Homo sapiens: one gene and its partners. The protein of the gene in region 1 purifies or fractionates together with the protein of each later gene. This does not show direct contact. Each region holds a gene or a part of one and is shown in the gene's direction. Other genes may lie near its edges. The genes, in order: SIGLEC12, SLC39A11 and TUBGCP3.

Region 1 (3,653 bases):
CCACCCGTCCGTCCGTCCATCCATCCATCCATCCATCCATCCATCCATCCACCCACCCACCCGTCCATCCATCCATCCATCCATCCATCCATCCACCCACCCACCCGTCCGTCCATCCATCCATCCATCCATCCATCCATCCACCCACCCACCCGTCCATCCATCCATCCACCCATCCATCCATCCAGCCATCTACGGTGGAAAATAACACATAACATAAAATTTACCACCTCAACTTTATTAAGTTTATGGTTGTGCTAGATCTCTAGAACCCTTTTATCTTGCAAAACTGAAACTCCACATTCGTTGAACAATAACTCCGCCCTTTCCCTCCCATCCTCTTCATCCTCCTGCAGCCACTGGAAATCACCAATTTTACTTTATTTTCCTATGAATTTGACTATTCTAGATACCTCATATAAGTGAAATCATACAGTATTGCTCATCTTGTGACTGGACGATTTACTTAACAAATATCCTCAAGGTTCACCCACATTGTAAGGTGTGACAAGATTTCCTTCTTTTTAAAGGGTAATTAATATTGCATTGTGTGTATGTTTACCGCATTTTCTTTATCCATTTATCTGTTGATGTACACTTGGGTTGCTTCCACCTCTTGGTTATTGTGAATAATGCTGCCGTGAGCATGGGCATGCAAATATCTTTTCAATATCCTGCTTTTAATTCTTTTGGGTGTATATCCACAAGTAGGGTTTCTGGACTCTAAGATTATTCTGTTTTTTAATATCTTAAGGAACTGCCATACTGTTTTCCACAGTGGCTACACTATTTTACATTCCCACAAATGTCACACAAGGGTTCCCATTTCTCCACATCCTCACCAACGCTTGTTACTTTTTGGTTTTCGTTTGTTTTTGACAGTGGCCATCCTAACGCGTGTGAGGTGATATCTCATTAAGGCTTTGATTTGCATTTTCTAATAATTAGTGATGTTTTCATATGCTTCTTTTGATTTGTATATCACCTTTAGAGAAAGTCTATCAGAGTTTAAGCCTATTTTTGAAACTGTGTTGTTTCTCTGCTGTTGAGTTCTAAGAATTTTTTTAATATATTCTGGATATTAAAACTTTTTTCAGATGTATGGCTTGAAAATATTTTCTACCATTCTGTAGGATGACTTGTGTTTCTGTTAGTGATGTTTGAGCACAGGAATGAAGGAGGCTCAGATCTGACACTGACTGTGAGATTGAAGAGCACTCCAGACAGAGGGAAGAACAGGGTGAGGCTCAGGCACAGGAGGGACCAGTGAGAGGATCCACAAGGACGTCTGTGTGATTAGACAGAGGGAAGCAAGGCCAAGAACAGGAAATGACTTTGGAGAAGTTGAGCCTGTGTGTGAATCGTGTCTGGCTGCACAGGGCACTGTGAGCATTTGGAGAGTTTTGTGCAAGAGACCATGATTAACTTTTATTTTCATGGGATCCCTCTGGCTGTTGTGTGCAGAAGAGACTGTGTGTGGTAGAGGAAAGACAGAGCAGAGAAGATAGAGAGGAGGCTGGTGAACATCTCAGGCAGGAAGTGGTGCTGGCTGGAACCAAGATGGCAGTGGTGGTGGACATGGCTGTCTTATGGGTAAATTCTGAAGTTAGACTTATGAGAATTGCCAATAGATTGGGTGTACAATGTGAATGACAGAGAGGGAGCAAGAAGACTTCCAGATTTTTGCCCCAATCCATGGGTAGAATGGAGGGGTCAGTCATTGAGGCAGAAAAGATTGTGCAAAAAAAGAGATCTGGGGGAAAAAAGGAGGAGTTCAGATAGAATAGGTTGCATTTTGTGTGCCTTTCGACAAGATGTGTGGGTTTGAAGTATACTATTGGATCAAGGACTATAGTCAGCAGAGGGGAGAGGGCTGGGTGTAAATTTGGAAGTCGTCAGTTTATTGATGGCATGAAGACAACACAGTGGATGAGATTGCAAAGCAAAAGTAAAGAAGAGCTCAGGGCTGCTCTGATATTTAGGGTCAGGGAGATGTGGAGCATCTAGCAAAAGGGCTGCCAAGAAGGTAAGATGGAGCCAGAAAGCACGATGTCCTGTAGTTAAGTCAAGAAGGGCTTCTGTGTAGGGAAGGTGAGCAGCTGGGTCCTCTGCTGCTGTGAAGTCCAAGAAGGAGAAGACTGCAAGACGGACATTTGGACTCAGCCAAGCAGTGGTCATGGTGACCTTGATAACAGCAGTGCTGAGATGTGGTGTGTGTGTGAATGTTAATTTGAGTAATCAAGACAGAATGGGGGAGTGAAATCACAAACAGTTCCATGGAGCATCTGCTGTGCAGGGGAGTAGCAGGGAAGTTCAGAGATGAAGGAGAAGCCTCCCAGGCAGCCTCTGTCACTCTCCACCGTGTGAGTCTATATTAGTTTCCTGTGGCTGCTGTGACAAATTGCCACACATTTCCTGGCTTCAAACAACAAACATGGATTAACTTAAAGTTCTGAAGGTCACAAGCCCAAAATGGGTGTCACTGGGCTAAAATCAAGGCATTGGCAGGCAGGGCCAGTTCCTTCTGGAAGATCCAGGGGAGGATGCGCTTTCTCACCTTTTCCAGCTTCTAGAGGCACCTGCATTCCTTGGCTCAGGACCCTCCCTCTGTCTGCAAGTCAAGCAGCCTGGCATCTTCCAATCTATCTATGCCCTCCTCCTTTCACTACTTGTAAGGACCCCTGTGATTCCACTGGGCCCACCCAAGTAATCCAGGATAATTTCCCCATCTCGATATCCTTAACCTAATTCCATCTGTAAAGCCCCTTTAGCCATGTAAGGTAACAGATCAACAGGTTCCAGGGGATTAGGGCATGGACATTTTGGAGGGGTCATTATTCTTCCTATAAGAGGGATATAATTTATTTTATTGACTTGTCTTCCCCACACCACCAAACTGTGAGCTTCTCAAGGGCAGGTGCCACGTCTGAATCAAGGCCCTGTAATTCTCTCTCACTTGCCCTCTTCCTACCCATCTTATCATAATTCACACATAGATATTCATTTGTTTGGCAGTCATTTATTGCCACCTCCTTCAGTTAAAGAGTGAGATGCAGGGGGTCAGAGCCCATGCCTACCGTGTCCACCACAGTCCATCCAGCACCCAGCCCAGGAACTCACACACAGGAGGCCTCAGCAGGACTCCAGGCTTTGGGGTCAGAAGGAACTGACTGGATTGGGTCCCGGTATAAGAGGGAGTTTGCGCAGGGTACTTAACCATTTCTACCTCAGTTTTCAAATTTATAAAATGGAGACAATAATAATATCTTACTATGGAATTGTTGTTGGAAGTTAATGAGATTAGTAAACACCACATAAGGTGATAATTGAGTATTAGACATTAGAGGAACGTATTAAAGAGATTTCAGCAAAGTGCACATGGGATGAATGGAGGAAGGAACTCCTGGGCCTCCTTCCTGGATGCTCTCTGGTGCATGCTGGCCCCACTGCTCTGCACTGACTCCCTTCTCTTCCTCCATTCAGGGACCCCTGATTGAATCCCCGGCAGATGACAGCCCCCCACACCATGCTCCGCCAGCCCTGGCCACCCCCTCCCCAGAGGAAGGAGAGATCCAGTATGCATCCCTCAGCTTCCACAAAGCGAGGCCTCAGTACCCACAGGAACAGGAGGCCATCGGCTATGAGTACTCCGA
Region 2 (3,393 bases), on another chromosome or scaffold:
GGGATATGCTCTTTCTTCATTTGCCTTTCCTTTCCTTATTCCCTCCCCCTCTCTGCCCCTTCCCAAGATCATCCCCACTGCCTCCTCAACTGTGCTCTCTGAAACTAAAAGAAAAGAAGCTAAGGGCATGTGGGTCAAGAAATGAGGTGACACCAGGCAGTGGCATACACACCTGCCCCCCGTCCCTTGATGCAGTAGACTATCGTTTTTGTATATTCTCTCTCATCCTGTCTCTCGATTCTCGGGCTGGAATGAAGGGAGAGGTGAGCTCTAAAATGTCAGTGAAGGTGATACATGCATGTCTTCACTGGCTAGCTATAGGCCAGGTGTCAGAAGGTGGGAGTAAGGGTTTGCTTTGTTCCATTTTGTTGTTGTTTTGTTTTGTTTTGTTTTTCTTTTTTTTTTTTTTTTTAATGGCAGAGTCTCGCTCTGTCACCCAGGCTGGAGTGCAGTGGTGTGATCTCGGCTCACTGCAACCTCCGCCCCCCAGGTTCAAGTGATTCTCATGCCTCAGCCTCCCAAGTAGCTGGGACTACAGGCAACCACCACTACGCCCAGCTAATTTTTGTATTTATAGTAGAGACGGGGTTTCGCCATGTTAGCCAGGCTGGTCTCAAACTCCTGACCTCAGGTGATCTGCCTGCCTCGGCCTCTCAAAGTGCTGGGATTACAGGCTTGAGCCACTGCTCCCAGCCTATTTTGGTTTTTATAGAAGAATAACTCTGAGGCTAGTTTAAAAGGCCAGATTAAGTAATATCTTTAAGAAATAATCACCCCTCTTCATTACTCACACATGGACCACAGAACGATCATAGGTGACCTTGGGCAAGTAACTTCTCTTTGCCTCAGTTTCCCCACCAGTAAAATGAGGATAATTATGATACTGACCTCATGAGGTTGTTGTTTGGGGTTCCATGGTTCATTAGTTTGCCTGGCACATAGTAAGCCCCAGTAAATGTTACCATTATTAATGGTAGTGTGCTTTCTCTTGGAATTGGACATTGCAGAGGATGCCTTCAGCCTAGCCGTGGCCTCAGGGATCATTAAGGTCTTACTTTTCTTCCTGTCCTTCTCTTCCAGTGGTAATGGGAAACTGGCATCCTGGGCCTCCATCCTGGGATTTGTAGTGATGATGTCACTGGACGTTGGCCTGGGCTAGGGCTGAGACGCTTCGGACCCCGGGAAAGGCCATACGAAGAAACAGCAGTGGTTGGCTTCTATGGGACAACAAGCTTCTTTCTTCACATTAAAACTTTTTTCCTTCCTCTCTTCTTCATCTCATTATCCTGATTGACTCTGATTATAATAGAACCATTTTTACTTTGCTTTGAGGGAGATTTTTGATTTAATGGGGAATTTTAAGGTGTCATGGAAATACAGATTCTTTGTTTTGGCCACTGAATGGACTCTCTCTTCAGTGGGATTATCAAGGAACTTCAGATCAGGGAAATCTCCACTTCGGGACCTTCTATCTGCCTCCCAACTCCTCAAGGTCACCTATAGAAGCGAGCTACCAAAAGACGTCTCCTAAGCATTTTGGTGGCCTAGTGACTCAGGGCAGAGTGGCCAGCACACCTCTCATCCGCCCCTCCTGCTCCATCACTGCTGAGCCTCTCCCCATCTAGAATGTTGGAACTGGAGCATCATAAAGATAGCAAGCTACCTTCCAAGGCCGAGCCAGCCCAGAGAGGAGCATGTCTTCCTTTACCTCCCCCTAAGGAGATACTACATGGGAGGGGGACACAGAAAAAGGGAAGGAAATTGGCTAGTCTGGCTTTTTTTTTTTTTTTTTTTAAAGGCAAAGATTGACATTATTGAAGGAAAGGGGATGAGGACAACTGTGAACTCACAGTGAGCCCTGTGGAAAGAAGAGACAGACAGAGTGTGGGTTTGTTCGGAGGCCTCTGCTGTCAATGGATTCCAGGAGCAAGGCCATTTGTCGCGCTTTCCAAATTTCTTAGGCATTTATTTTGATAAGTTTATAGCCATCATGTTTCTAAGAGACTTGGAGACACCAGCAAACTGCTAGAACTCAAACTCTTCAATTACTCAAAGAAGGAGCCATTTCAGTTAACTCAAGTGAATGAAAGAGTTTTGGAATCTGCTGTGGGTCCTTCCCTGTTGACCATTTGGTAACTTATAATCTGACAAAAACTCTTGAGCTGCAACAGGCCTTGCCAGAGGGCTCAGGATGGGAAAGGAAGAAGGGGATAGGAAAAGAAGAGGTAATTTTACATTTCCCCTTTAAAGTAAATTTTAGCCAACTCATCATTCTGAAATGTCCCTATAAAGAATGAGTCGAACTAGACCAGAAGCCAGCCTACTCCTTCTTACATAGCTTCTCCAACAGGGGTAGCAATGACCTGTCCACTTCAAACACAGATAAGGCCTGCCATCCTCATTGGTTAAAGGCACACGTGAGACTTTCAGTGGGCTCTGCTGAGAAGGAAGGCAGCCCAGGAGTCAGGTATGCAGGCATTGCATTGTCAGTGTCTGCTCTCAGAGTTTACACATTCAATTGCTTCCAAGGGTGAATCTCCTGCTCTGTGAATGCTATCAGACCCCAAAGGCCAACCTTGGGCTGGGTCTATGTACGTTCTTCCGAAGCACTGATGATCAAAATTGAAGACACATTCAGAGGTTTGATTGGTTGAGATTAACTGGTGTGGTGGTTGGTGTATGTATGTTTTATTTTTATGTCTTTGTATGTAGTTCTACATAATGCAAATTGTGCTTTCTGATGGACAAGACCTCATAACTGTGATTAATATCAATAAAAAGGGGATGTTGTGGATGACCTGTGTTACGTTCAGTACTTCTCAAAGCTGCTTCTTTGCAAGGATGATCATAAAAGAGCTAACTAAAGTTGGAACTAACACCTCCCTGATCCAACACTAGGAGAGGCAAAGGAAAGAGCTCAGATGGGAAGGGCTAGTCAGATTCTTGGTTGCAACAACAGCATCCAACAGCAGCTTACTTAAACAGAAAAGGAAATGAGTGGAAGCCTGTTAGGGAATTCACAGGCTCTTTCGGAGAATCGGGCTTGAAAATGGGTTGGATCCAAGAAAGCCAGAGGTCTGGGGCCATGACCCAATCACACCTGGAGAACAGCTTGGTTTAGATGCCATGGTCCCCAGAGCTGGTCCCTAGATCCTGGACACCACTAATGAAACTGCTGTACCTTGATGCCACCACCACTGCCGCCACAAGAACAAACTCTACACTGAGCTGGATTCTTTGTGTCCTGGCTCCACATTCGAAGTTCTAGATCAGAACATCCAGCTGCCAGAGCTTAGATCCTGTGCCCATGAACTAGCTGATCTTGCCCCTTCCCAAGACTCGCAAAATAGTGGATTTTCCAAATTTGGGAATGAGTTCATATGGTGCAGAGCC
Region 3 (3,653 bases), on another chromosome or scaffold:
CTATTAAAAATCTGTATAGAGAACTTTGAACTGAAAGTCTTTTAGAATCATCCTCTTAAATTTAGAACTATGCCCAGAGACATAGTTTTAGTGAATGTTGTTGACTTCTCTCCTGATGAAAATGGAATAAAATAAGAACTGTTTCAGTTCTTTCCTGTTCTCCTTACTTCACGAGTGGATTATGGATAAACCCCCCCAGTATTGCACCAGTACTAAATCCAAGCTCTGGCACCTGGAAACTGTAGAGCAGCTGAGGTTCTCATTTTTGTGTTTTGTAGTCCCAGGAAGTGATATTTTTGTTGCACCTGTCAAAACTGACGCTATTAGAAATCAGCTATGAGGTTCTTACATTTTTCAAAAAACAACTTTGACATAGTCTCAAAATTGCTGACAAGCCATCTTGACCTTGAATATGCATTTGCCTTAGATTTTATACGTTTGTATACTTTAGCAGTTAATTGAAAATTGCAGTTTCTTTTCATAGTGAGCACTCTGAAGGCTGAAGACAGGTGAGGCCAGGCGCCTGGGGCAGTGTCACAGTGACTCGATTCCTCTGCTCAGTACATGGGGAGTGAACGAGAGTTGTGGATTTTGAAGTTAAAATAAGTAGAGAATTTCAAAGTGGTTATGGGGTGGGTAAGGTATGTTATATGTTTATAAAGAAAAGCCAAATAGATTTTGATATTAATGGTAAGAAATATATATTGTAAGGTAGCAGTAAGATGATTTTTCCACTGCTGTGTTGGGTCCGAATGCTAGGCCAAGGGTCGCAAGGAGGCTTGACCAAGTTCAAGGGACTTGGGACTGTCTGTTATTGATATATTCGGTTAGGGTAAAGTCATGGTATCAGCTATACCAGATTTATAAATTTATGTAATTCACGATAGTAATACAAGAGAAATTTCTAGGGACACTTTTGTCTCTTCAGCGAATAGCCTATTAGAAGATAATACATGTTTCTTTTTTTAGACAGTCTAATCAAGCTCCAGGAGTAGGAGATTGCCTTCGACAGCAGTTGGGGTCACGACTCGCATGGACTTTAACTGCAAATCAGCCTTCTTCACAAGCCACTACCTCAAAAGGTGTCCCCAGTGCTGTGTCTCGCAACATGACAAGGTCCAGGAGAGAAGGGGATACGGGTGGTGAGTAAGGATCTATGTTAATACAGCTTTTCTGTGAACACTTGGAATTCAGCCTCTCCTTATTTTAAAGTACAGCCCAGGAGCCCCACCTCAAACCTTTTAGTGGTTTCTTCTTGTTCTTATGATGAAGTCCAGAGTCCCTGGTGGTCTGCGGCGCCTTGGGGAGTTTGGCTTTTCACCCCAGGCCACCTGGGCTTTTTCCTCCCAGCACAGTCTGCTTTTTGGCTGCTTTTCCATGTGGCCTCCTCCCTCCACATCTCTCGTCTTTGCTGTTCCTCATCACATTCTCCCTGTCTGTTTTCATCCTGCCGTTTCCCTGGGAAAGTCTTTAAGGCTGGGTTAGGCCCCCAGTAAAAGTCACCTTCTTCTACCAAAGTCTTAAGGCCACAGAGGGGCTATGTCTTTTCATTTATGGTGCCAGTGCTCAGCACAGTGCCTGGCACGTCGAAGAGAGTCATTGAGGAATTACTGAATGGTGAGATGAATACCTCATGGAGGGTTTTAAAGCCCTGCTAGATTCCAAAAGGAAGCTTGAGTTTCTTTATTGAGAACACTACAGTTAGCAGCATTTGAAACATGAGTGTCCTGAAAACAGAGGATTGGGTTTCCCTGTTGGCTCGTAATCTGCTGATTACGAAATGGCTCTGGATGTTACCTGTACCTGTCCTTGCGTAGAATGCAAAGGTGAGGAGCATCTGAGAGCTGGAGGACATCCTGGCACAGTATTAGCCCCCGCAGTAGTCTCCACCATCTGCCCCACTCCGCCTGTCCCTGTGTGTGGCTCCCGCGTCCAGCCTCTGTCCACAGCTGCAGATTCATGTCGTGTTTGACAGCTGTGCGTTCATGGCACAGCAGGCCAACCTCTAGACTGAGACTCGCCTTGTTTCTTTCTAATCTCATACTCTTTTTCATCTTGAGCTTATTTATTGAGTTAGTAAATTTCATCGGGGTGGCAAATATCTAATCTGAAGCTAATTGCACCATAATATCTATTGTCTGTTAAAATATTGTCTAGTAATTACTGTCTTTAAAAAATGATTTTGCAGGTACTATGGAAATTACAGAAGCAGCTCTGGTAAGGGACATTTTGTACGTCTTTCAGGGCATAGATGGCAAAAACATCAAAATGAACAACACTGAAAATTGTTACAAAGTAGAAGGAAAGGTACAGTAACATAAAATCTAAGTTAAAATATTCAGAAAGAAAAAACATGTCATGAAGTCCAGATAGTGGCTGTTGATTGATAAGGTGGTACTGGGGTTTTGCGAATCGGTTGTGAGGTGAAATTGCACTGTGGAATTCTGGTTTCTATTTCTGTCCATTGTGGCTCGTTCAGTTTTGTTATGGGGACCCTTTGTGATTAATGTGTGCCTCCTTTCCTCACGTCTACTGATGGGGCTGCCCCATAGCTGATTTCTGCATCCTGCTGTGTGATGGCTGAGGCACCCAGGGGACAGAGGTCCCTTGGCACCTTCGGCATTGATGCAGGATTCCAGGTCAGGGGTCTTCACCCACTTTTGTTTCCTTTTTCCATAATCTGCCTTTACCATGCCCATTTCTTGTGGTGTGGGTCACACTGTGGCTCTTAGCCCTTTCACAGCGTGGCTGAGATCACAGACCTTCTCTGCCACACCGCAGGCCAACTGCAGGGTGGTGTGAAATGAGCTCACCATGCCCTTTGAGGTGCTTTCCATCATGCTGTCACTTAATGTGCTTTCCTTCCCTTTAGTGATGGGATCTTAGTTTTAACTTTTATGTCTTGAAGCCTAAGGATTATAGTATTAAAAGTAGAAGTGCTTGAGAAAAATACTAATTAAAGCTCTAGTATTGCTTTTTAATGTTTAACATTTGATGTATTTACTTTTTAGGCAAATCTAAGTAGGTCTTTGAGAGACACAGCAGTCAGGCTTTCTGAGTTGGGATGGTTGCATAATAAAATCAGAAGATACACGGACCAGAGGAGCCTGGACCGCTCATTCGGACTCGTCGGGCAGGTGCGTTCATGGTTCCTAGGATGCTGGGATGCTGCGCACTTTGGGAAACGCTTACTCTAGTTGAAATCTTACTGTGAAATAGCTCCTTCTAAGGCTCTTTCCAAGTAAAGCAGCTTTGAGAGTCAACTTTCAGGGTCCACTCAAGACAGTAGAAACCACAGTAGGTGCTGATGAGGACACTGAATACAGCAGGTTGGCTCAGGAACTGCTGGAGGACTGTAAAATACAGAGAAAATGGTGAGACAGAGCTGGCCATGGGGAGCTGGCATTGCCCGATTCCAAACGCTCGAAGGGGGCCCTGCCCAGCTGCTGCTGCCTCCTCCAGAAGGTTGAGGAGGGGCCCTGCTGGGACGGGGCCTGCCAACAGGGGACACTCCCAGCTGCGTGATTCCCCAGGCAGCACGGTGAGGCAGGATTTGGGAACACTGCCGAAGCTGGAGATGGGAATCCTGGCTATGGCTGTCTGGACAGCCCTGGGTGGGCACTGCCGATGGCACAGTGCATGGTTGGGAGGGA

The links.
Region 2: the proteins of SIGLEC12 (region 1) and SLC39A11 purify together in Homo sapiens (affinity purification with mass spectrometry; 2 studies listed by BioGRID and IntAct, with this or other methods). This does not show direct contact.
Region 3: the proteins of SIGLEC12 (region 1) and TUBGCP3 purify together in Homo sapiens (affinity purification with mass spectrometry; 2 studies listed by BioGRID and IntAct, with this or other methods). This does not show direct contact.

The regions. Positions count from the first base shown.
Region 1 is NC_000019.10:51,491,660-51,495,312, reverse strand, and holds part of SIGLEC12 (sialic acid-binding Ig-like lectin 12 isoform a precursor), read left to right. Parts: intron 1-3,483; coding exon 3,484-3,653. UniProt on the Homo sapiens protein: Putative adhesion molecule that mediates sialic-acid dependent binding to cells. The sialic acid recognition site may be masked by cis interactions with sialic acids on the same cell surface.
Region 2 is NC_000017.11:72,645,350-72,648,742, reverse strand, and holds the end of SLC39A11 (zinc transporter ZIP11), read left to right. Parts: intron 1-1,080; coding exon 1,081-1,159; 3' UTR 1,160-2,794; downstream 2,795-3,393. UniProt on the Homo sapiens protein: Zinc importer that regulates cytosolic zinc concentrations either via zinc influx from the extracellular compartment or efflux from intracellular organelles such as Golgi apparatus. May transport copper ions as well.
Region 3 is NC_000013.11:112,553,541-112,557,193, reverse strand, and holds part of TUBGCP3 (gamma-tubulin complex component 3), read left to right. Parts: intron 1-969; coding exon 970-1,142; intron 1,143-2,188; coding exon 2,189-2,307; intron 2,308-3,011; coding exon 3,012-3,137; intron 3,138-3,653. UniProt on the Homo sapiens protein: Component of the gamma-tubulin ring complex (gTuRC) which mediates microtubule nucleation.